Homo sapiens: one gene and its partners. The protein of the gene in region 3 interacts with the protein of the main gene of each other region in a pairwise test. Each region holds a gene or a part of one and is shown on either strand. Other genes may lie near its edges. The genes, in order: ZNF444, TYRP1 and GIPC1.

Evidence for each region.
Region 1: the proteins of GIPC1 (region 3) and ZNF444 interact in binary tests that used the Homo sapiens proteins (3 or more experiments, as listed by UniProt).
Region 2: the proteins of GIPC1 (region 3) and TYRP1 interact in binary tests that used the Homo sapiens proteins (3 or more experiments, as listed by UniProt).

The regions. Positions count from the first base shown.
Region 1 is NC_000019.10:56,139,223-56,142,971, forward strand, and holds the start of ZNF444 (zinc finger protein 444), read left to right. Parts: upstream 1-2,064; 5' UTR 2,065-2,135; intron 2,136-2,475; exon of another isoform or gene 2,476-3,010; intron 3,011-3,053; exon of another isoform or gene 3,054-3,749. UniProt on the Homo sapiens protein: Transcriptional regulator. Binds to the 5'-flanking critical region of the SCARF1 promoter.
Region 2 is NC_000009.12:12,691,623-12,695,371, forward strand, and holds the start of TYRP1 (5,6-dihydroxyindole-2-carboxylic acid oxidase precursor), read left to right. Parts: upstream 1-1,762; 5' UTR 1,763-1,856; intron 1,857-2,289; 5' UTR 2,290-2,374; coding exon 2,375-2,759; intron 2,760-3,749. UniProt on the Homo sapiens protein: Plays a role in melanin biosynthesis. Catalyzes the oxidation of 5,6-dihydroxyindole-2-carboxylic acid (DHICA) into indole-5,6-quinone-2-carboxylic acid in the presence of bound Cu(2+) ions, but not in the presence of Zn(2+).
Region 3 is NC_000019.10:14,482,491-14,486,239, reverse strand, and holds part of GIPC1 (PDZ domain-containing protein GIPC1), read left to right. Parts: intron 1-3,233; 5' UTR 3,234-3,263; coding exon 3,264-3,551; intron 3,552-3,749. UniProt on the Homo sapiens protein: May be involved in G protein-linked signaling.

The DNA of each region.
Region 1 (3,749 bases), about 42 Mb from region 3:
AGGGGCAGGAGGCAGAAGAGGCGAGAGTGGAAGCATGACAGTGTCTAAAGAGGCCATGGGGACTTAAACCAGGTGGTAGCCATAGACGGGAGAGCTGTGGACAGATTCTGCATCTATTTTGAAGACAGAGCCAATAGGACCTGATGATAGATTGCATGTGGATGGTGATGAAAAAGAGGAATTGGCTGGGCATGGTGGTTCACGCTTGCAATCACAGCATTTTGGGAGGCCGAGGAGGCAGATCACTTGAGGCCAGGAGTTCGAGACCAGCCTGGCCAACATGGCAAACCCCATCTCTATTAAAAATACAAAAATTAGCTGGGCATGGTGGTGCACGCCTGTAGTCCTGGCTACTCAGGAGGATGCAGCATGAGAATCACTTGAGACTGGGAGTCGGAGGTTGCAGTGAGCTGTGATCGCACCACTGCACTCCAGCCTGGGCAACACAGCCAGACCCTGTATCAAAAAACAAAACAAAACAAAACAAAAAACCAAAAAAAAAAAAAGAAAAAAGAATCAAGGGCTGCTTTTCTATTTTTGGCCTCAACATTTGGGTGAAGATGGACTTGCTTTCTAAGATGGTGGAGTAATGGGAAGGAACAAATTTCTTCGCAAGGTGGGGGAGAGAGTGAAAAATTATCTACTGCCCACCTTAGGTTTGAGATGCCTATTAAGAAATCCAAGAGGAGATGTCAAGTAGGCCATCGGATATGAGTGGGAAGAAGATCAGCGTGCTCTAGGAGCAGAAAGGAGGCATGACTGGAACTCATTAAACACGAGGAGAAGACAGTGGTAGACAGGTGGGCCAGGGCAGATTAGGCCACCGTGGGCAAACTGGTCACAAAGTTCTGAGTCAGCCACTCATCGCTTGTGAAACCTGGGGAAAGTTGTTCATTTATGAATATAAGACGAACAACTTCCATGTAATGAATGCTTGTTATGGGTAAGCCACTGTCTTCGTTTTTATGGCGCGGAGTCTTCAGATCAGCCGGGGAGGTGGAGGATGGGAGGGGGATTCTCTTATCCTTGTTGTACGGAGGAGGAAATACGCTGCGGGCTGGGGTAGGGCTTGTATGAGCCATAATCAGGTCTGGAACTGTCTAGATAAAAACTTCAGCTGATCTCTTAGGATGTCTGTCTGCTCTAAAATCCAAATATGCTTCTTCACAGTTCTGAGATGCAGAAACTGAGGCCTCAGGACGGGGCAGTAGTCTGTCCAATAGGGGCACAGCGAGGACGCGTGGCAGGTAGCGCTGTCCCCCAATTCACCCCAGGGGAAACTGAGGCTAAAGAGAGGGCGGTGTCCTGTCCAGGTTCACACACAGGAAGAGCCAAACCGAGGCCCCCGCGCTGGCCCCCTCCTGAGCCACTGCCCACCCCGGAACAGGAGGGCAGCCTGCTCACGTCCTGATTCCTGGCACCGACATCGGCCCTTAAGTTCTGCCCGGGTGGAGAGGGAGGACAAAAAAAAATGCGATCCGTAGTCAAGGAGACGTAGCCTGCACTCCTGATTGGCGCAGAACTCTAGCCTGGTCTCCTCCTCCTCCTCCTCTTCGCTTGCCAGCTTCTAGAGCTCCGGAGGCCCCACCTCCCAAATGCCCGGCGGTGCCCGGCCTCCCCTGATCTCCACAACAACGCCGCCATGGCTCCTCCTCCTCCTCCCTCTTTTTTTCCCGGCACTTCTGCGCATGTCCAGGGCCCGCGCGCAGACCACTGGGAAGCCTCCTCGTGCATTCTGGGAAATGTAGTCCAAAGCCTGTCGCGCTCAGACAGCCCGCGACATTTGCGCCGTCAAGGCCAAATAGGCTGCAGACGACGCTTTCGCGTATCTTGGGAAATGTAGTTCCAGTGTTGGCGAAGACGCCACGCGGTGACAAACAGGAGTAAGGCGGTCCCCAGGCGAGGGCCAATTGGCAGCCGCCTTTGCCGCGATGCTTCCTGGGAGTTGTAGTTCGGGGTGAGGCCGGGGCTTCATGGGGAGTTGTTGGGCTGAACGAGCGGCTCGGAGTATGGGATTGGGGGAGGGGGACGGGGGAGTTTGGCGCAAAGCCTGCTGGGGCATGGAGTCCCGGCGAGCTTTGTGCGCATGTGCGGGGAGGTGAGGGGGCTTGGGGGGCCTCGCCTGAGAGAGTGAGGTGAGCGAGGGGGGAAGGAGGGAGGGATTGGGTGGGGGCGGTTGGACGAGGGAGGGACCAGAGGTTGGATGGGAAGAGGGGCGCCGGGGGCCTCAGGAGGGAAAGATGGGAGACTTGCGGGGAGGGGAGGAGAAGGGGGCTGAGTGATGGGGAAGGGGCTGGGAGAGGGAACTAGAGGGGGAGGGACTTGGAGAGGGGGAGGGGTGGATAGTGGGAGGGGGTCGTGGATCCTCGAGGTCCTGAACGCGGGAGAGAAATGCTGAGGGAGAGGACGGGGGAGGGGCGCCTGGGGGAGGGGGAGGGGCGGGACGGGGGAGGGACAGGTGGGGGAGGGGAAGGGGACCCTAGCAGAGGGTGGGCTGTGAGATGAAAGCTGAGTGGGAAGCTGGACCCTACAAAGGAGTCTGGGGGCGCCGGGACCGGACCCCTTCGGAAAGGTTTGCGGGAAGGGGCTTCCGGGGACGATGGTTATTGTTGTAACGTAGATACGGCGCAGGTGGCTCGTTTTGCGCGCTGCTTCTACAAGTGCAACTTTTACAGAGTTGTGAGATTCCTGAAGATAAGAATCGTTGCTCTGTTTTGCTGCTTTCTCAGTGCGGAGCATCTGCCTTTTTAGCTTGTTGCAAGGCATTATTACCTTCGGTAATATGTGTAAAGTGCTTAGAAACTCTGTTTATTGTCAAATGAAGTTGACCCCCGCCACCTCTACCCCAGTCAGGATGGAGTCACCCTCCTCTATATCCGATTTTAACGCCTATTCCAATGTATACTTAGTATTTTAATCTGCGTGCGTGTTCATAGCAGTGTCCCCTGGGCACCTCGCAGGGAAACTTCGACAAAGTAACCCTAAGTCTGACTGGACACTTACTAGCCAGGTGTGGTTCTCAGCATTTTTGTTCTCCTTCTATCACTTTACAGTCAACGAAATGGAGATACAGGGTATTACAAAAGGTGCCTTGTACCTCGTCCAAGGACACAGAGCTGGTAGGAGGCAGAGCTGGAATTTGCCCCAGAGCCTTTGTGCCGTAGGTAAATATTTGTCCAGTGGGCCAGCGGCTCTCAACCAGGAGTGGTTTTGTCCCCCAGGGGACATGTGGCAATGTCTGGAGACTTTTTTTTTGGTTTTTCCAACTTGGGAAGTGCTACTGGCATCTCATGAAAAGAGGCAGAGATGCTGGTAGACATCGTATGTTGCACAGGATAGCCCGCCACGACACAAGTGCCATTAATGTCGAGGTTGGGAACCTAGAGTAGACAAACCGGTCTTTGTCGAGCACTTAGCCTTTGGAGGCTGCTTCTAACTCCTGCTCCCAGCAGCCTCTTGAGAGGAAGGAGCTCTTGTTAGTCCTGTGTCTCAGGTGGAGAAATGAAGCACAGAGGGGGTAAGTCACACGTCCACAGTCACACTGCTGATGAGTGGCAGAGCTGGAAGTTGAAGCCAGGCAGCCAGACTCCACAGCCTCTTAGCCATGATATTAACCCAGCATATGTGGGTGCTGGTGCCGGGGTACTAGGTGGAACTGGTGTGGACTCTGGAGTCACATCTGGGTCCCATTTGTGGCTCCTTCACTCTCTGAGCATCTCCCTATGGTAAGAGGGGACCCATCTCCCCAG
Region 2 (3,749 bases), on a different chromosome or scaffold from region 3:
AATTTTTAGTTTTTTGAGGAAACTCCAAACTTTGCTCCATAGTGGTTGTACTAATTTACATTACTACCAACGCTGTATGAGGGTTTCCTTTTCTCCACATCCTTGTCAACATTTCTTATTGCCTGAATTTTGGACATAAGCCATTTTAATTGGGGTAAGAGGGTATCTCACAATAGTTTTGATTTGTACTTCTCTAATGATCAATAATGTTGAGTATCTTTTCATAAGTCTGTTTGCCATTTGTATGTCTTCTTTTGATAAATGTCTGCTCAAATATTTTGCCCATTTTTTTATTGGATTATTAATTTTTTTCTATAGAATTTTTTGAGCTTCTCATATATTCTGGATATTAATCCCTTGTCAAATGGGTAGTTTACAAATATCTTATCCCATTCTGTGGGTTGTCTCTTCACTTCATTGATTGTACTCTTTGCTGTGCAGAAGATTTTTAACTAGATGTGATCCCATTTGTTCATTTTTGCTTTGGCTACCTGTGCTTGTGTGGTATTGCTCAAGAAATCTTTGTCAAGACCAATGTCCTCAAGATTTTCCTCAATGTTTCTTCATTGTAGTTTCATAGTTTGAGGTCTCAGATTTAAATATTTAATCAAATCATTTTTTATTTGATTTTTGTATATGGAACGAGATAGGGACCTAGTTTCATTCTTTTGCATATGGGTATGTAGTTTGCCAGCACCATTTATTAAAAAGACTGTCTTTTCCCCAGTGTATGTTCTTGGTATCTTGGTGAAAAATGTCTTTACTGTAGGTGTGTGATTTTGTTTTTGGGTTCTCCTGTTCCATTGCTCTATGTGTCTGTTTTTAGGCCAGTACCATGCTGTTTTTGCTACTATCACTCCGTAGTATAATTTGAAGTAAAGTAATATGATTCCTCCAGTTTTGTTATTTTTGCTTAGGATAACTTTGCCTCTTCAAGGTTTGGTGTTCCATATAAATTTTAGGATTTTCTTTCTGTTTCTGTGAAGAATGTCTTTGGTATTTTGATAGGAATTGCATTGAATCTGTAGATTGCTTTAGGTAATACGGACTTTTTAACAATCTTGATTCTCCCAATCCATGAACATATAATATTTTTCCATTATTTGGTGTCTTCTTCAATTTCTTTCATCAATGTTTTGTAGTTATCATTATAGAGACCTTTCATTCATTGGTTAATTCCTAGGTATTTAATTTTATGTGTGGCTATTGTAAATGGGATTACTTTTTTATTTCTTTTTCACATTTTTCACTGTTGGTATATGGAAACTTTGCTGATTTTGGTATGCTGATTTTGTATCCTGCAACTTTACTGAATTTGTTTGTCAGCTCTAATAGTTTTTTAGAGGAGTCTTTAGGTTTTATTCAAATATAAGATCTTATCATCAGCAAACAAGGATAATTTGACTTCTTCATTTCCAATTTGGATGCTCTTTATACCTTCTCTTGCCTGGTTGCTCTAGCAAGGTAATATGTTGAATAACAGTTGAATAACAGAATAAAAAAAAATCTCTGCAAAGTAAACAAATCTCACTAGTTTATCTGACTTGTATTCCAAATTAGTGCTTCTGGCCTTTTCTTAAAACTTTAAGCATCACAAGGAAATCAGTTGGAAGGGAATCATGTGCTGATCAAGTCCTTAAAGGGCAGAAATATTCACTGAAGTGAAAAGGATTAGTAAAGGGTGGAAAAAAAGACCAGCCCCCCGCCTAGTTTGGGTGAGCAGATTTGGGATTAATTATCAGGCAGCAATCCACATGCACTTAACAGTTCTGACGTGAGAGGACAAGAAACACAAGCAAATATAAAACATTCAATTCTAAGAGAAGTTCATCAGAGACATCCTTCAGGATTGTGAGGTACTGGAAAGAAGTCCTATGGGGAGTGGGTGGACACGTGCCAAAACTCCATTAGTGTAAGGGACTTTAAATCACAGAAATTAACTTGCTGGAAATCTGTTCCCAATTCTTCCTTCAGCTCCAAGGTTAAATTAAATGTAATTAATGATGGTGACCTGCTAATTCATGCTTTTGATAACTGATATCTAGTATGTATATATATATAAACAAAATGACGAGGACAGGGAATTTAATTATTTGGGTATCACACATGCAGGTGTTATATATGCCAAATTTTAAAGGTAAAATTTGTGTGAAATGTCACACTTTTATTATTTGTGTGAAATGTCATTTTACATATGGGTTCCATTTTGAAAGTGGTTTGGGAAGGGGGCATACCATTTTAAGTACCAAGAAAAACTTGCATAATCTCATTTTACTTTCTCTTTTTCAGCTGGATTTTCCTCTACGTGCTTCAGTCTTCTCTACACAAAGAGCTGCAAACCAGGTCTTTGTTTTGCACTCTTATTTCAAGCAGAATGAGTGCTCCTAAACTCCTCTCTCTGGGCTGTATCTTCTTCCCCTTGCTACTTTTTCAGCAGGCCCGGGCTCAATTCCCAAGACAGTGTGCCACTGTTGAGGCTTTGAGAAGTGGTATGTGTTGCCCAGACCTGTCCCCTGTGTCTGGGCCTGGGACAGACCGCTGTGGCTCATCATCAGGGAGGGGCAGATGTGAGGCAGTGACTGCAGACTCCCGGCCCCACAGCCCTCAGTATCCCCATGATGGCAGAGATGATCGGGAGGTCTGGCCCTTGCGCTTCTTCAATAGGACATGTCACTGCAACGGCAATTTCTCAGGACACAACTGTGGGACGTGCCGTCCTGGCTGGAGAGGAGCTGCCTGTGACCAGAGGGTTCTCATAGGTAAGTGGAGATATGAATGAGTTCATAAGTCCTGCATGAGACTCAAGGCTCTTAATAAAATCTTAAATCATTTGAGCTGGAGGAATACCTGGAAATCATATAGCTCAACCCTCTCTTTTCATAGTTGAGGAAACTGAGGCTTAGAAAGGTTAAGAAACTTGTTTAATGTAAAGGGTTGGAGTTGAAGCTCAGAACTTCTGATCAATATTTTATTCTGAAACATTTATTGAGCAACCACTATATCCTAGGAACTGTGTTAGGTATTATGACTAGTCAATTCAGTAACTCCTTCAGGTAAACATGTTAATTGTCATAGATGAGGTTCAGAAAGTTCAAATCCACACAGGTGATATTTAGTAAACCTGGAATTCATGCTGAGATCTACCTAGCCCTTATATTTTAGTTCTGCAACTACCCCTGCTGACCCTTAAAGAAGTTTCCCACCATGATGATCAAATTCAGCATTTGAGATGAAGAGTTTGGCCTGCAGACTAAATAGCATTAAATAACAAAGCACTAAACAGTAACAGCCAACAATATTTGATTGTGTTCTATGTGCGAGATAGTAGACTAAGGGTTTAAATGAACATGTATTGAGTCCTTACTATGAGTTAGGCCTTGGGCTAATTGCTTTTTATGTGTGTGGTCTTTGAACTTTCAATTCTGTAAAGCAAGTATTATTTTTATCCACATTTTAATGATTAAAAAAAAACTAAGACTTGGAAAAATGTGCCCAAAGTCATAGAATAATTCTCTGGTCTTAACTACTATGTTATATCACCTAATTTTCAAAGATTTATAATGTTAAAAAGACAGAAAATTCCAACAAAAATGCCAACAGTGGGCAGAAATCAACATGACAAGGTCACAGAAACATAAAATCCATAGGTAAGATTAAAGAAAGGTAATATAAATCATGCAGTAAATTGGAGAGAGAAAAGGGAAGAAAGAGAGAGAAAGCAGGCTTGAAGAAAGGGTTTTAGTTAAGGA
Region 3 (3,749 bases):
TAATTGTAGCATAACGTGATCCCTGTGTTACAGTGTGGTGTGAGGGTTAAGGAAGGTCACAGGCCGGGCACGGTGGCCCATACCTGTCATGCCAGAGCTTTGGGAGGCCAAAAGCTCCTTGAAGCCAGGAGTTCCAGACCAGCCTGGGCAACAGAGAAAGATCACCTCCTTGCCAGGCGCAGTGGCTCACGCCTGTAATCCCAGCACTTTGGGAGGCCGAGGCAGGCGGATCATGAAGTCAGGAGATCGAGACCATCCTTGCTAACGTGGTGAAACCTCGTCTCTACTAAAAATACAAAAAATTAGCTGGGCATGGTGGCGGGCACTTGTAGTCCCAGCTACTCCGGAGCCTGAGACAGGAGAATGGCGTGAACCCTGGAGGTGGAGCTTGCAGTGAGCCGAGATCGCGCCACTGTACTCCAGCCTGGGTGACATAGTGAGACTCTGTCTCAAAAAAAGAAAAAAAAGAACTCCTTTCTCTCTCTCTCCCTCTCTCTGTCTCTCTCTCTCTCTCTCTCTCTCTCTCTCTCTCTCTCTATATATATATATATATATTTGTTTATTTATTTATTTATTTATTTTTTGAGACGGAGTCTATCTCTGTCACCCAGGCTGGAGTGAGTGCATTGGCACGATCTCTGCTCACTGCCAACCTTCGTCTCCTGGGTTCAAGCAATTCTCCTGCCTCAGCCTACCCAGTAGCTGGTACTACAGGCGTCTGCCACCATGCCCAGCTAAGTTTTGTACTTTTAGTAGAGATGTGGTTTCACCATGTTGGCCAGGCTGGTCTCGAACTCCTGACCTCAAGTGTTCTGCTCACAGCCTCCCAAAGTGCTGGGATTACAGATGTGAGCCATCGCACCAGGCCTACAATAAAATTTAAAAAAAAAATAGTCGGGTGTGATGGTACATGCCTGTAGTTCTAGCCACTTGGGAGGCTGAGAATGGAGGATGGCTTGAGCCCAGGAGGTTAAAGCTGCAGTGAGCCATTATCGTGATCACCCCACTGCACTCCAGCCTGGGGACAGAGCAATAAGAGACCCTGACTCTTTTATTTATTTATTTTTATTATTTTTTTTTGAGACTGAGTCTTGCTCTGTTGCCCAGGCTGGAGTGCAGTGGTGCAATCTCAGCTCACTGCAATCTCTGCCTCCCAGGTTCAAGCGATTCTCTCGTCTCAACCTCTCGAGTAGCTGGGATTACAGACGCCCGCCACCACGGCCAGCTAATTTTTGTATTTTTAGTAGAGACGGGGTCTCACCATGTTGGCCAGGCTGATCTCCAACTCGTGACCTCAGGTGATCTGCCCACCTCAGCCTCCCAAAGTGCTGGGATTACAGGCGGGCACTATGGCTCATTCCTGTACTCCCAGCACTTTTGAGAGGCCGAGGCAGGAGGATTGCTTGAGTCTAGGAGTTTGAGATCACTCTGGGCAACATATTGAGACCCCTCATCTCTGCAAAAAGTGTTTTTTGTTTTTTGTTTTTTGTTTTCTGTTTTTGAGATGGAGTGTCATTCTGTCACCCAGGCAATGGCACGGTCTCAGCTCACTGCAACCTCCGCCTCCCAGGTTTCAGGCAATTCTCCTGCCTCAGCCTCCTGAGTAGCTAAGACTACAGGCACATGCCACCACACCCGGCTAATTTTTGTGTTTTTTTGGTAGAGACAGGGTTTCACTATGTTGGCCAGGCTGGTCTTGAATTCCTGACCTCGTGATCCACCCGCCTCAGCCTCCCAAAGTGCTGGGATTACAGGCATGAGCCACCGCACCCGGCCTGCAAAAAGTTTTAAAACGTCAGCTGAGCATTAGGCACAGTGGTTCACGCTTTTAATCCCAGCGCTTTGGGAGGCTGAGGTGGGCGGATCACTTGAGGTCAGGAGTTCAAGACCAGCCTGGCCAACTTGGTGAAACCCCATCTCTACCAAAAATGTAGAAATTACCCCGGTGTGGTGGCACAGACATGTAATCCCAGCTTCTTGGGAGGCTGAGACAAGAGAATCGCTTGTACCCGGGAGGCAAGAGATTGCAGTGAGTGAGCTGAGATTGCACCACTGCACTCCAGCCTGGGCAACGGAGTGAGACTCAGTCTCAAAAAAAAAAAAAAAAAAAGAGTCAGGGTCTCTTCTTCAAGAATCACTTGAACCTGAGAGGCAGAGGTTGCAGTGAGTCAAGATCACACCGTTGCAATCCAGCCTAGGGGACAGAGTGAGACTCCATCTCAAAAAAATAAAATAAAGGTTAGCTGAGCTTCATGGCATGTGCCTATGGGCCCAGCTATTTGAGAGACTGAGGTGTGAGGATCCCTTGAGCCTGGGAGATCAAGGCTGCAGTGAGCTTTAATTATACCACTGCACTCCAGTCTAAGTGACAGAGCAAGACCCTGTCACAACAACAAATGAAACACACAAGGAAGGTCACAAAGCAATAATCCTAGCTGGTATTATTATTATTATTATTATTATTATTATTATTATTATTATTATTATTATTGAGACAGAGTCTTGCTCTTTTGCCCAGGGTGGAGTGCAGTGGTGTGATCTTGGCTCACTGCAACCTCTGCCTCCTGGGTTCAAGCAATTCTTATGCCTCACCCTCTTGAATCACTGAGATTACAGACATGCGCCACCATGCCTGGCTAATTTTTTTGTGTTTTTGGTAGGGATGGGATTTCGACATGTTGGTCAGGCATCTCGAACTCCTGACCTCAAGTGATCCTCCCGTCTCAGCCTCCCACAGTGCTGGGATTACAGGTGTGAGCTTTTTATTTTATTTTATTTTATTTATAGACGGAGCCTTAGTCTGTCACCCAGGCTAGAGTGCAGTGGTGCGATCTTGGGTCACCGCAACCTCCACCTCTCCAGTTCAAGCTATTCTTGTGCCTCAGCCTCCCAAGTAGCTGGGATTACAGGTGCACACCACCACACCCGGCTAATTTTTATATTTTTAGTAGAGGTGGGGTTTCACCATGTTGGCCAAGCTGGTTTCAAAGTTTTGACCTCAAGTGATCCGCCCACCTCAGCCTTCCGTAGTGGTGGGATTACAGGCGTGAGCCACCGCACCCAGCCCTATTATTACTTTTATATAAGTGTCCTGTCACTATACAAGAGATGAGGATTTCAACCGAGGCCAATTTGTTCTCTGAGTATTTCCTTGGGCCTGTATGGTTCGAGTAGTGTGGGAGGGGCACCCAAGGCCTCTGCCCAGGCCCTGAGCCCCACTTCCTGTCCTGCAGATCTTCTGGTGACCCCACTTCTCGCTGCTCATGCCGCTGGGACTGGGGCGGCGGAAAAAGGCGCCCCCTCTAGTGGAAAATGAGGAGGCTGAGCCAGGCCGTGGAGGGCTGGGCGTGGGGGAGCCAGGGCCTCTGGGCGGAGGTGGGTCGGGGGGCCCCCAAATGGGCTTGCCCCCCCCTCCCCCAGCCCTGCGGCCCCGCCTCGTGTTCCACACCCAGCTGGCCCATGGCAGTCCCACTGGCCGCATCGAGGGCTTCACCAACGTCAAGGAGCTGTATGGCAAGATCGCCGAGGCCTTCCGCCTGCCAACTGCCGAGGTATCCACTGGGGAGCCGGGCACCAGGGTCCCTGATGGTGGACCAGAGGTCTGGGCCTGCATCCTGTTCATGAGCTGGGGCTCAGATGCTGAAGCTGCAGATGCTGAGCCTGGGCCCCACTCAGTGGTGGGGGCCAATGGCCTGGGCTGGATGCTGAGTCCCCATGAGGCACTGGGAGGCTTGTGCCCCTGTGAATTG